3 linked regions of the Homo sapiens genome follow. The protein of the gene in region 2 interacts with the protein of the main gene of each other region in a biochemical or structural test. Each region holds a gene or a part of one and is shown on either strand. Other genes may lie near its edges. The genes, in order: ELK3, NFIA and SMAD4.

Region 1 (3,105 bases), on a different chromosome or scaffold from region 2:
TATGAAAATCTGTTTGGCATTAAGTGAATTTTAATGTTTTTGTTTTTATATCCTTTTAGCTCTTAAGTGTTGAACACTGTTGACAGTGAAGAACTTTTCTTAATGGTTTTCAGTATAACTAATAAGGATGTGAAGCTTTTTTCTCTTTAGTTCTGAGTATGCTAAACTGTGTGCTTATATAGACTATAACCAGTTGTGCCTTCCTTCGCATTTAATGTAAATGAATGATTTATATATTTTTTAGTATTAAGAGGAAATGTTTGAAAGATGAAAATTAGTATCAAACAGCTCTCTAGTAGAATTTCATTATTTTTCACCAGTGGGCAATATGAAAGCATATATCACGTTTTGTTTTACTTTCAATTGTATAAGAATTGCCTTAGAACCTCTTTTGAACTGAAATTCAGTAAATGTCCAAGTAATGTTTTTATAATAAACTAAGCCATATTTAGACAATAAACATTGATAAAAGAAAATGTTCTAAAGTACATTTTCAAAAGAATGGACCTTGAAAGGCTAGCCTCCTTAGCTGTTTACAGTATCTTATCTTTTAGATGCCTCCCAGACAAAAATCTGAGATGGAAAAGCTACATCAAGTTCATGCTATTCCAGGCCCAAGAATATCTCCTAGGTTAGCATATTCTTATTTCAAAAAATTAGCCCTGGTTTTCTCAGTTTTCCATAGGGAATCCCGACCATCTGATATATTTACTGTGTCAGTATAAGTAAGTTGGGGTTCCCCTGGAACTATAATTAACATTTAAAAAATCTAATGCTTTAGAAGAAGCTCACAGAGTGGTGATGAACCCAAACAACAAAGAAACCATTTTTAACACTAGGTATCTTCATCAGTATAGGTAGGTGTTCACAATTTTTGATGGATCAAAAACTTGCTGTAATACAAATAGAGAGTGGAGGTACTAAAGGCCTTGCTTGTGGAAACTGAGAGAGGATACACTGCTTTATGTATTACTAAAGTTAGGGGAGAATGAAGGAAATCTGACAGATGAAAAATTCTACAGGAACCTCATCATCGTGGAACTGAACTGATGATAACTTGGAACACTCCAGTAAATTCTGTTGTGTAATGTAATTTGGAGCAGTGATAATACAGACATATTTTCTGTTCCATCAGAAAATCAGCAGGCACCAGTCCAAAGGTACCACACCTGTACATGAAGAAGGAAAGTTCTAATACAAGAAAACTGAAAAGCACCAAGCTTTAAATTCAAGATTAATTACAATCCTTAACTATAAGTGATGATAAAAACTAACTTGAAATGTGACTAAATAACTGATCCAAACTGGGCATTAAGTGGCAGGATTATGAGAAAGGATAAAAAAAGAGATTTGAGAAAACACATTTCTTGAATTTTCAGAAAAAAATCTAGACTATTGCTTTGACACTTAGAAATTCTGAGGTTTTTCAATTGGAATTGAGCATCTCTGTATGTGGGGATGTGGGCCCTTATCAAGGGATAAAAATCCAAACACTCTAACATGCCTCCTTGACTGTAAAGTAATGACACTGGTTCCAAAATTCACAAATAATAGACACTACTGTCCCCCCACCCCCACCCCATAGGCTAAGAATAATTCTGTACCAGAATAAAAGGAGCTGGTCCAGGGAACTGATATTTACTGAACATACAAAGTTAGTGCTAGAAGGGGCCTTTGAGAATGCTTCCCGCCACCTGTTTCCAGCTCAAGACAGGTGCACAGCAGAAGCTGGGAGTTGCCTATGGCTGCACAGCTCACTGAAGGTAGAACAATGATTGGTGCTCAGTCCAATTCTGTCTCCCCCATGCCTAGCTGTTAAGTAATTACTGGTTCAAAACTACGTGTTATTAGTAAAACAAACAAAACAGATAAAGACAGCATTTAAAACTGTGTTGTCAGATAAGAGAACACATCCAAAATGCATGATTCTTACAAACTAAAGGAAGTTAATGTGCAAAAATCTCAACCAAAACTACTATTTTTAGTATACTTGTTTACGTAAATGCTGATTGGAAATATTTAAATGACTATAGATCTGATTCTTTCTTTTCCTTTGGAAACTGGGATTAATGTATGCTCTAGATCCATTTATTAGAAATGCAAAAATACTACAATTTTTTGATGGATGAAAATACTCCTGTAACACAAACAGAGAACTGGAGGAACTGAAGAATAACTCACTCATATAGCTCTGCCTCATTCTGTGTGTGTGTGCATGTGTGTGTTAGCAGAGGTATTTTACTCAGAAAATAGGTTTCAAAGAACATTAATGACTTTCTTTTCCCTTTTATGTCTGCTTAATCAGTGTTAAACTGCTATGGGAAAAGTTTTATAGAACTATATAACCTGAATGTTGGTCTCTTTGTACACATCTTTTCTATGACTGCAAATCTTCACTTTATGTATCATTTTTACTGTCATATTATTTTTGTTCAATAAAAACTTTGTGATAAAAGGTGTTTAGAGGTAACTGGATTGGCTTACTTCCATTTGCTTGGGGTGACCCAAACCACTTTTCCATATGGATACAAGTTGGAAAATGAGTCTTGTCACCTACCCTTAAAGACAGCACATCCAAAAAAAAAGTGCTTTACATACACATATTTTAAGAAATAAATGTAATTATTGAGGCTGACTTGTGGGAGAATGGAATGGATTGAAAAGCAGACCCCTGATCTTATTTAAGTTCTATCAACTGCTCTGTATTGAGGAGGAGGAGGAAGTGAGAAGGTAGGGGAAAATCAAATCTACCATTTATTCTTTTAGCCATTTTGTTGATTCAGGGGAATGTGAACTGCTAGGCTTGGTGATAAAGGTTATTATTTCTCTTGGTCTCAATACCAGGCTGACCTGGCTCTGGTTTTCATGGGTGATTCAAAGCAGTCTCCACTCAGGGTTTGATATAGGGAGACTGGTGTGAGGGGAGGGGAGGGGATGCAGGGAGAAAGCAGATTAATGCAGTCCCTAAACAACACATTCAGTATCACTAGCGTGCCAAAAGGCCACAGATAACTCACAGCTACATATAGTGTAACACAGGTGGCGGTAGGAAATCATTTGCTTCCTGAAGAAACATTTAAAGATCAACTATGTTCCAGGTGCCAT
Region 2 (3,755 bases):
TGGGAGAGAGAATGGTTCTTGAGCATTCGGGAATTATTTTGGCAATAAAGTAACTAAAGTACAAGCATAAAATAACTTTAGACAGATGCAGAATTATTTCAGAGGTTCTCTTTTGCTCTTTCTCCAGTACAGTATTTCCTGCCCCTTGCTTTGAAAAGAAGTCTGAATGAGAGTGGCCTTAACACATCACTCACCCTCACTTGTTAACACATCACTTACCCTCACTTTCCTACAGGAATGTCCCCTCTTTAGAGACTCTCTGGTTATGTCACCTCCACCGAAGGGCAGATTCCCCTGTGTGCCAGTGTCTTTCAACATGATACCTACCTCTTTCCTTTTGGAATTTTGAGAAGGGTTGTCAAATGCAGCATTTTGCAAACCATCATGAGGAAGAGAAGTAAAATAAGGGATGGGGGCTTAGAAGAGGCAGGTAGGCTTTCCCCCCTCCGAGAGAGGAGAGCCTAGAGAGAAAATATGAGGTTAAAAAAAAAAAACTGGAAAAGCAGGCTTACTGGCAACTTGCCAAACCCTAAAAACCACCCCCCTCTTTTCTGCCAAAACAATACTTTAGCAAACCTAAAATAATTGCAGGAAGCTCTTTTCCATTTTAAGAACTATTACCTGGGGGAGGGAAAAAAGGGATTCTTAAAAGGCACCCTTCCAGAGGTGTCCCAGAAACTGGGACGGTAATGATAGCCTATGTCCAGTTCTGGGCACGCGTTTGTGGATCAGAATATCTCCCTTCCCTAAGGGGACATCCCTTTCACATATTTTTTTCCTCCTAAAAAGTAAAAGATGTCACAGCTAAACCACTGTTGTTTCTGAACGTGATAGAACTTTTTCTATGGCGTCTGTGTTCAAACCCACTAGTTTCACAGTCCTGGGAGGGATAACGCTCATTAATCTCCGCCTTCTTTTCTCCAGACCCCCGCCCCCCAAATCCGGTGAATCTTCTGTGGGCACTGATTCCTCACCACCCCCGCTTCTGAATGCCACAGGACCGAAGCTGCACAAAGTTTGCAGGATTGTGTGCATAATTACCTCTGCCGACGAATCTATTCCCACAGAAAGCTTCGCTGGAGAGATTACAATGCTTTGAGCCTTACCGCATTTCAGTGGGGGAAAAAAAGTTACCTAGGAGGTCTGATTTTTCAAAGAAATTTGCATACATGCAAATGTGCCGCCCGGCCTCCTCCTCGGTTCTCTACGTGCCCACGCGGTGGCCCGGGGGGTGCGGGGCAACCTGGCAAAGTTGCCCAAGTCCTCCACCGAGGTCCGCGGAGGTCTGCAGCGGGGGTGGGGGGATGGGGACGAGGAAAAGTAGTTTTGTTTGCTTAAGCACATCCTGTGGCAGCCTATAGCTGCCCGGGAGTACAGACTGTAACTGCTCCTCACTGCGTTACCCAGTAATGCGCTGATCGGGGGAGGGGGCGGGGGGGCCGGGGAGCGAGCGGGAGAGCGAGCAAGCGAGCGAGCAAGGAGCGAGCCACGGAGAGAGCCGGGGAGCGAGCGAGCCAGCCTGCGAGCGCGAGCGGCCGCGGAGGCTCGGGACCCGGCTGGCCGCGCGGCGCCGCAGCCGCCCCCTCCCCCACACCCCCTCCCCCCCGCGGCGGCGGCGCGAGCGGGCGGCGGCTGTGCGGTGCGGTGCAGAGCGGAGGCGGAGGCGGGCGCGCGGGCAGCTCGCGGGCACCCGGCCGGGCCGGCGCGGGAGCGGGAAAGGGTGCGCTATGCCTTTAACACCCGCGTACAGTAGGCATGTATAGTGGAGTGTAGGGAAACTCTAGGCGGGGTTAAAGTTCAGCTCATGGAGCGGCAATAGCGCTGGCTGGCTGGCTGCAGTTGAGCCGACTTGGAAATGTGAACGCAAGAAGCAGGCTTGATTTTTTTTTCTCCCCCCTTCTCTCTCTCTCTCTCTCTCTCTCTTCCTCTCTCCCTCTTTCTCCTCTCTCACCCACACTCACGCACACCTCCAAACCGCACACCCAGACGCACACGCATACCCCAGCGCCCGGCAGTTATGTATTCTCCGCTCTGTCTCACCCAGGTAAGCCGCGGCGTGGATGCGGAGGGCTTGGGGGCCGGGGCGCCGGGGGCAGGGCTGGGGCTGGGTGGGGGGCACCGGGGCCGTCGCTCCGGCCGGGCCCAGGGCGTGCGTCTCGGTGTGTGTCTGTGTCTGCGCGTGTTTCTGTGTGTGTGCGCGCGTGTGCCCGCGGGTGGGGGGGGGGATCCCGCTTAAAGAAAGTAACTTTGTTTCCATGCGGGTGCATTCCTCTTGCACGGCCATTTGTGTGGGCACATGGCTAATGGCGCCCTCTTATTAATGCGTTAATTAATATCGGGGCGACGGACTGCGGAACAGCAGTGTTTTCGGACACCCCGCACGTGTTTCGGCGGGGTTGCAGTCCATGACACGCAGAAATCTGGCTCAGCGTTTCTGCTGCCGGGAGCAGGGATTCCGTAGTGCCGCAGCGCCCGGGGAGGGGGCCGCCGACGGAGCCCACCGCTCACCCCGCACGCTCGGGCCGGCTGCAGTCCTCGGGTGCGGGGAGACCTCGGGTGCCTGCGCCCAACGGCCCGCTCCCCGCAGCCTGCGCTGCCGCAGCCCCCCGCCGTCTTCCCGAACTCTTACTTTTGTTTATTGTTTGTCAGCCTTCGGGGTCCGGCCGCGGAAAGGACGCGGGCTCCCGTCCCGGCCCCGGCCCGGACAGCGCCCCTCGGACGCGGGCAGGCTGCGGCTAGCCCTCGGCTGAGCGGGGCTACGTGGACGCGCGTTCCCCCGCGCCGGCCGGGTGGAGCCTGCGTCCTCGCCGCGCGCCGGTGGCCCGTTGGCTCTCCCGGAGTGAAAGTTTCGGGGCCGAGACGAGCCCACGTTGTGCAGGGCGCCGAACGCCGGAGGCCGCGGGCCGCGGGCCGGGTAGCGCCGGGCAGAGTTGGGCTCCTAGCCGGGAGCCGGAGCGGCGGCCCGGGCCGGACACGGCTCCCCCCGCCGCCGCCGCCGCCACCACCACCACCGCCACCGCGCGACTCCGGCCGCTCCGCGCGCAGGACGGGGGCAACTTTTCCCCTCCGACTCAACTCAGAGCATGGGGCTCTTGCGCCCCACCGCCTCTCCTTTCCGTGCCCCCCTGTCCATTCCTCCCTTGTCTACCCACCCCCAGGCAAAATATTGCTACTTCGAGACTTCAAATCCGGTCCCCTTTGAATATGTTATTTGTTTTCCTTGACTAAAAGGCTTGAAGTCAAAGTGGTTTTGCGCTATTTTTTTTTTAAGCGTGAGATTTCATACTGCTTTGGTACATTAGGATCTGACCATTAATCACCTACATGAAGTTATATGCTTCACATAAAATGTTTATTCACCTCTCCCTTAAAAAACCTACCACTTCTTGCCTTCATTTAGTAGGAGATAACGGTTTAACCGGAATAGTTTCTGGAAGGCTAAAAAGTATCAGTAGTTTTCGCTCTCCTCTCTAGATTCTGGATTTATTTCCCACATGACATCCCTTCTTATTGCAATATCTAACAGTAATAATACCGGGTATTTGATCTCAGAAGACTCTTAAACGCATCTTTTATGTTGAAATGGTCTGTTTGGGATTTAGGCCTAGCATTAATAATGGATAGCAGTTACTTTTAGTTACTGTAAAAGTTTTTTTTTTTTTTCCTAACAAACTTCCAAAGTTCCTATTTTAGTAACTTGTGGAAGTATGGAATGAAACTTTTCCAACCACTTCTGGCAAGGTTCACAATTGCAT
Region 3 (3,755 bases), on a different chromosome or scaffold from region 2:
TATTTGGGTTGGGTTTCTAGAGGGAAATTTCAGTTTGACTTTTCATTTATAATTTTTCCGTTTGGTTCTAAACCTATAGGGGACATTACATTCAGTACACTTCATTTTTAAAGAATATGTTGCTTAACAATAATTCTAGATCCTGGGATTGGATATCTATCAGATCCCACTCATATCTCCACAGTGTGAAATTAACAAAAAGATATAGTTAAATACTCAGTCTCTATTTAGACCGAATAATTGTTTTTCTCAGCTGGACACATTTTCCAGCCATTCGGTTTTTGCCTGCCTTATGTATTTAGGTGATTATTCTTCTAGGTTTATCAAGAAACTGAGGAGTACCTTTTTAGGATTGTTGCTGGAGGCTGTTGAAACATAGACTAGCTTCAAATTTGAGAGTCAGATTGATTGATAAAATATATCTCATGCTGTTACCGCTGAATAAATGACTTTTGCTGGTAAAGTAGTATGCTTTTAAAATAATATGAAAAAATTCTGAATTAAGGTTAGTAATTTACACTGTAATTGATTTTAGGTGTTATTATATTACTTGCTAATAAGATTTTTTTTTCTGGGAATAGAAGCTTATAAAAATTTAAAATATGTTTAATTTTCTATATAGCTCCATCAAGTATGATGGTGAAGGATGAATATGTGCATGACTTTGAGGGACAGCCATCGTTGTCCACTGAAGGACATTCAATTCAAACCATCCAGCATCCACCAAGTAATCGTGCATCGACAGAGACATACAGCACCCCAGCTCTGTTAGCCCCATCTGAGTCTAATGCTACCAGCACTGCCAACTTTCCCAACATTCCTGTGGCTTCCACAAGTGAGTTCTAGAATCAGATGTAGTCAGCAAGTTGAGTTTTCCTAATCATTGCTTATTTATGTGTAGTCACTTGGGGGGAAACTCCAAGTAAGTAAACATTAAAAGTAACTGTAGTATCTTTCATAGGTAAACAGGTATTAAACAGGTATGCACAATCACTTGGAATTTAAGTAATGGCTTTGATTATAATATTGATTTAAATTAATGATCTGATTTATACTTTACTATTACATGTAGCAGTAAGTAGCCTCTTAAGCTCCCAGATATATTTTGGAGAAATATTTAAATAATTAACAAGTAGTTTTGATCCAAGATGTTTATGAAGGTCTGTGTTAATGGAATTGCAACCTTTCTTTTAATGCGGTGTTCTTATTTTGGTTTTTCTGGGACAATATTACCTTATAGTAGTTGTCTGATTTTCTCACTGTGCAAAGGGATCTTGACAAATTTGTTATATATTGCTCAAGATAGACATTAATTAAGTCAATTTTGATATAAGCTAACTTCTATATCTCTTTTTAAAATATATGTGTAATTAAAAAAAAAAAGTGTTTCAGAAAGATCCTTCTTTTCTGCCATGTCATAGGAGGGAGAGGGGCTGCTAGGTTCAGGTTTTTGGGGGCATGATCATATGACCTGGTTCTGTTACTTATTTTCACAGTAACCAAAGGTTTGATAGTTTGCTGCTTGGCAAATGAAGTAGCTTTTTTTTCATTTTTTTTTTTTCAATTAATCATAGAGCATTGTCTTGGCATGTGTATGGTGTTAGTTGCATGCAGTTGCTAAAGGAATTTATGTAAACCCACATCAGAATAGATTTTTGACAGCTCTGGGCTAATACTGTGTTAGTTGCTACCGAAAGTACCATTATTGTATTTGCTTTACTATCAGATTAGATTCAACATAGAAATTTTGATCTTTGGAATAAATGGGGGACTGATTTCTGTAATTGTGAGTTTTCAAGTGAAGTATACCAGAATTTCCCCTTTAATTCATTACACCACTTCAAAGCAACATGTTTTTGGTTTGCTATCTAAGAGATGACAGTCTCACTATAGGCAGCATATTCTAAATGGGTCATATAGGTTAAGCACTTGAGAACCCAGTTCCTTAATCACTTGGTGCTTCTATTATCTGTCTACTTTTTATTTACCAAATTAGGAATATGGTTGACAAACAGTGGGTAGTGATAGAAAATAAAAGAAGGTACATTATAGCCACTTGAACGTAGATTAGTGCTAGAGCACAGCTACCTACTTCTGTTTATATTATCTGGAGATTGAATTTCTGTGCCTTTGTCAATGCTTACTAAAGTGACTTCATTTTGACTGTGTTGTTTCCTGAGGTTGAATCCTATTCAAAGATTAGAAAAAGTGATAGAAATGAAATGCAGCTAATTTTATCCTGGTATTTATTGGGTAGATTTTAATAATCGAATACCGTAAATACTGTAAGTTTTAGAACTTGTGTCAAAATGTTCCCTTATGTGGTGGCATGCGCCTGTAGTCCCAGCTGCTCCGGGGGCTGAGGCAGGAGAAATGGCGTGAACCCGGGAGGCGGAGCTTGCAGTGAGCAGAGAGCGAGTCACTGCACTCCAGCCTGGGCGACACAGCGAGACTCCATCTCCAAAAAAAAAAAAAAAAAAAAAAAAGAGGGTTCCCTTAGGTCTCAAAAAGTATATTGATGAAAAGAAGTTGAACTAAAATAGAAGATTTGAAAGGCTATTTTACGTGAGCTGATTTAGTCGTATTGTTTAACTTTATTTTACATACTTAGAATTGTATAAGGGAAGTATTCAGTATGGATAACTACAGTGAGTCACTTTACAATTTATGTTCTTTTGACACCTGAATATTTTAAGAATTTCCTTTTAAATACCTGTAAATTAAAATAATTTATCCTGTGTAGTTAATGACAATTTTTGTAAGTTAGCTAAGAGTATTGCCTGTAGAATTGTTAAAAATATGAACAAAACCATAATTAACCTTTAAAGATAACTTGCAGAATCTGGGGGATGAGTAGGAAGGGAGGTTGCTAAAATGTCATTTTTACAGATAAATAATTTGGGGAGTATTGAAATATTCTCTTTAGCTTTTGGTTTTGTAATTCTTAGCTTTAAGGAAATGTGATATGTAAAGAAAAGAAAAATATTCCTTTTCTTTGATACTTTGAGCAATGGTGACATGTTACTCTCTTCCATCTGATTATACTCCCATTTAGAAAAGAATGAGGTGATGCCAGTTATAAATAATTATAACTTTAGTGCTTTCCAAATAGGATTAACAGTCGAGTTAATTAATGCTCTTTAAGAAACCAAATTTCCACTTTAAAAAAAAAGCCTTAAAAATGTAGGACAGTAAGCAATATCATAGGATGGTTTTTGAATAGAATACAAGCCAAGAGAAGCTTGATTCTCTTGGTATATTACATACAGAGAGGGCAATTAATTTCTTGTACATCTGGGAATATGATGGTGTTCTTGAAAAGAAATGATTCTTGGTTTATAAAAGCTCTTGAAAAAATTTGAAAGTAGACTGATAGTTTTTTTGTTTGTTTTTAACCAGTAAATGGTATATTGATTGGACAGCAGAGCTAGATCTTTTTAACTTCCTCATCTTCACTATCACATCCTATTTAAAATAATTTTCTGCTCTGCTTTTCTCTGTCAAACCCTAGCATTCTGCCATTACTAGTATCAGTGCTGATAGTGATTAATTTTTCAGTTTTCAACATTTTCTTGAGCCTGGATTTTTGGGGTCCTAATCAGAAAGGTCCAGAGAGAGAGGTGGATGGAGTGGCCAGGATGAACTGACATACCTCTGAAGAAGTTAATATGATAGGCCAGACGTACAGTGGTGTTTTGCTGGCATTTGAAATATGTTTGTGAAGAAATAAGCCACTACAATTAGTTAGACATTAC

Evidence for each region.
Region 1: the proteins of NFIA (region 2) and ELK3 form a complex in vitro, tested with the Homo sapiens proteins (one study listed by BioGRID).
Region 3: the proteins of NFIA (region 2) and SMAD4 form a complex in vitro, tested with the Homo sapiens proteins (one study listed by BioGRID).

Annotation. Positions count from the first base shown.
Region 1 is NC_000012.12:96,267,366-96,270,470, forward strand, and holds the end of ELK3 (ETS domain-containing protein Elk-3), read left to right. Parts: 3' UTR 1-2,459; downstream 2,460-3,105. UniProt on the Homo sapiens protein: May be a negative regulator of transcription, but can activate transcription when coexpressed with Ras, Src or Mos. Forms a ternary complex with the serum response factor and the ETS and SRF motifs of the Fos serum response element.
Region 2 is NC_000001.11:61,080,775-61,084,529, forward strand, and holds the start of NFIA (nuclear factor 1 A-type), read left to right. Parts: upstream 1-1,786; 5' UTR 1,787-1,986; coding exon of another isoform or gene 1,987-2,017; coding exon 2,018-2,044; intron 2,045-3,755.
Region 3 is NC_000018.10:51,054,159-51,057,913, forward strand, and holds part of SMAD4 (mothers against decapentaplegic homolog 4), read left to right. Parts: intron 1-622; coding exon 623-835; intron 836-3,755. UniProt on the Homo sapiens protein: In muscle physiology, plays a central role in the balance between atrophy and hypertrophy. When recruited by MSTN, promotes atrophy response via phosphorylated SMAD2/4.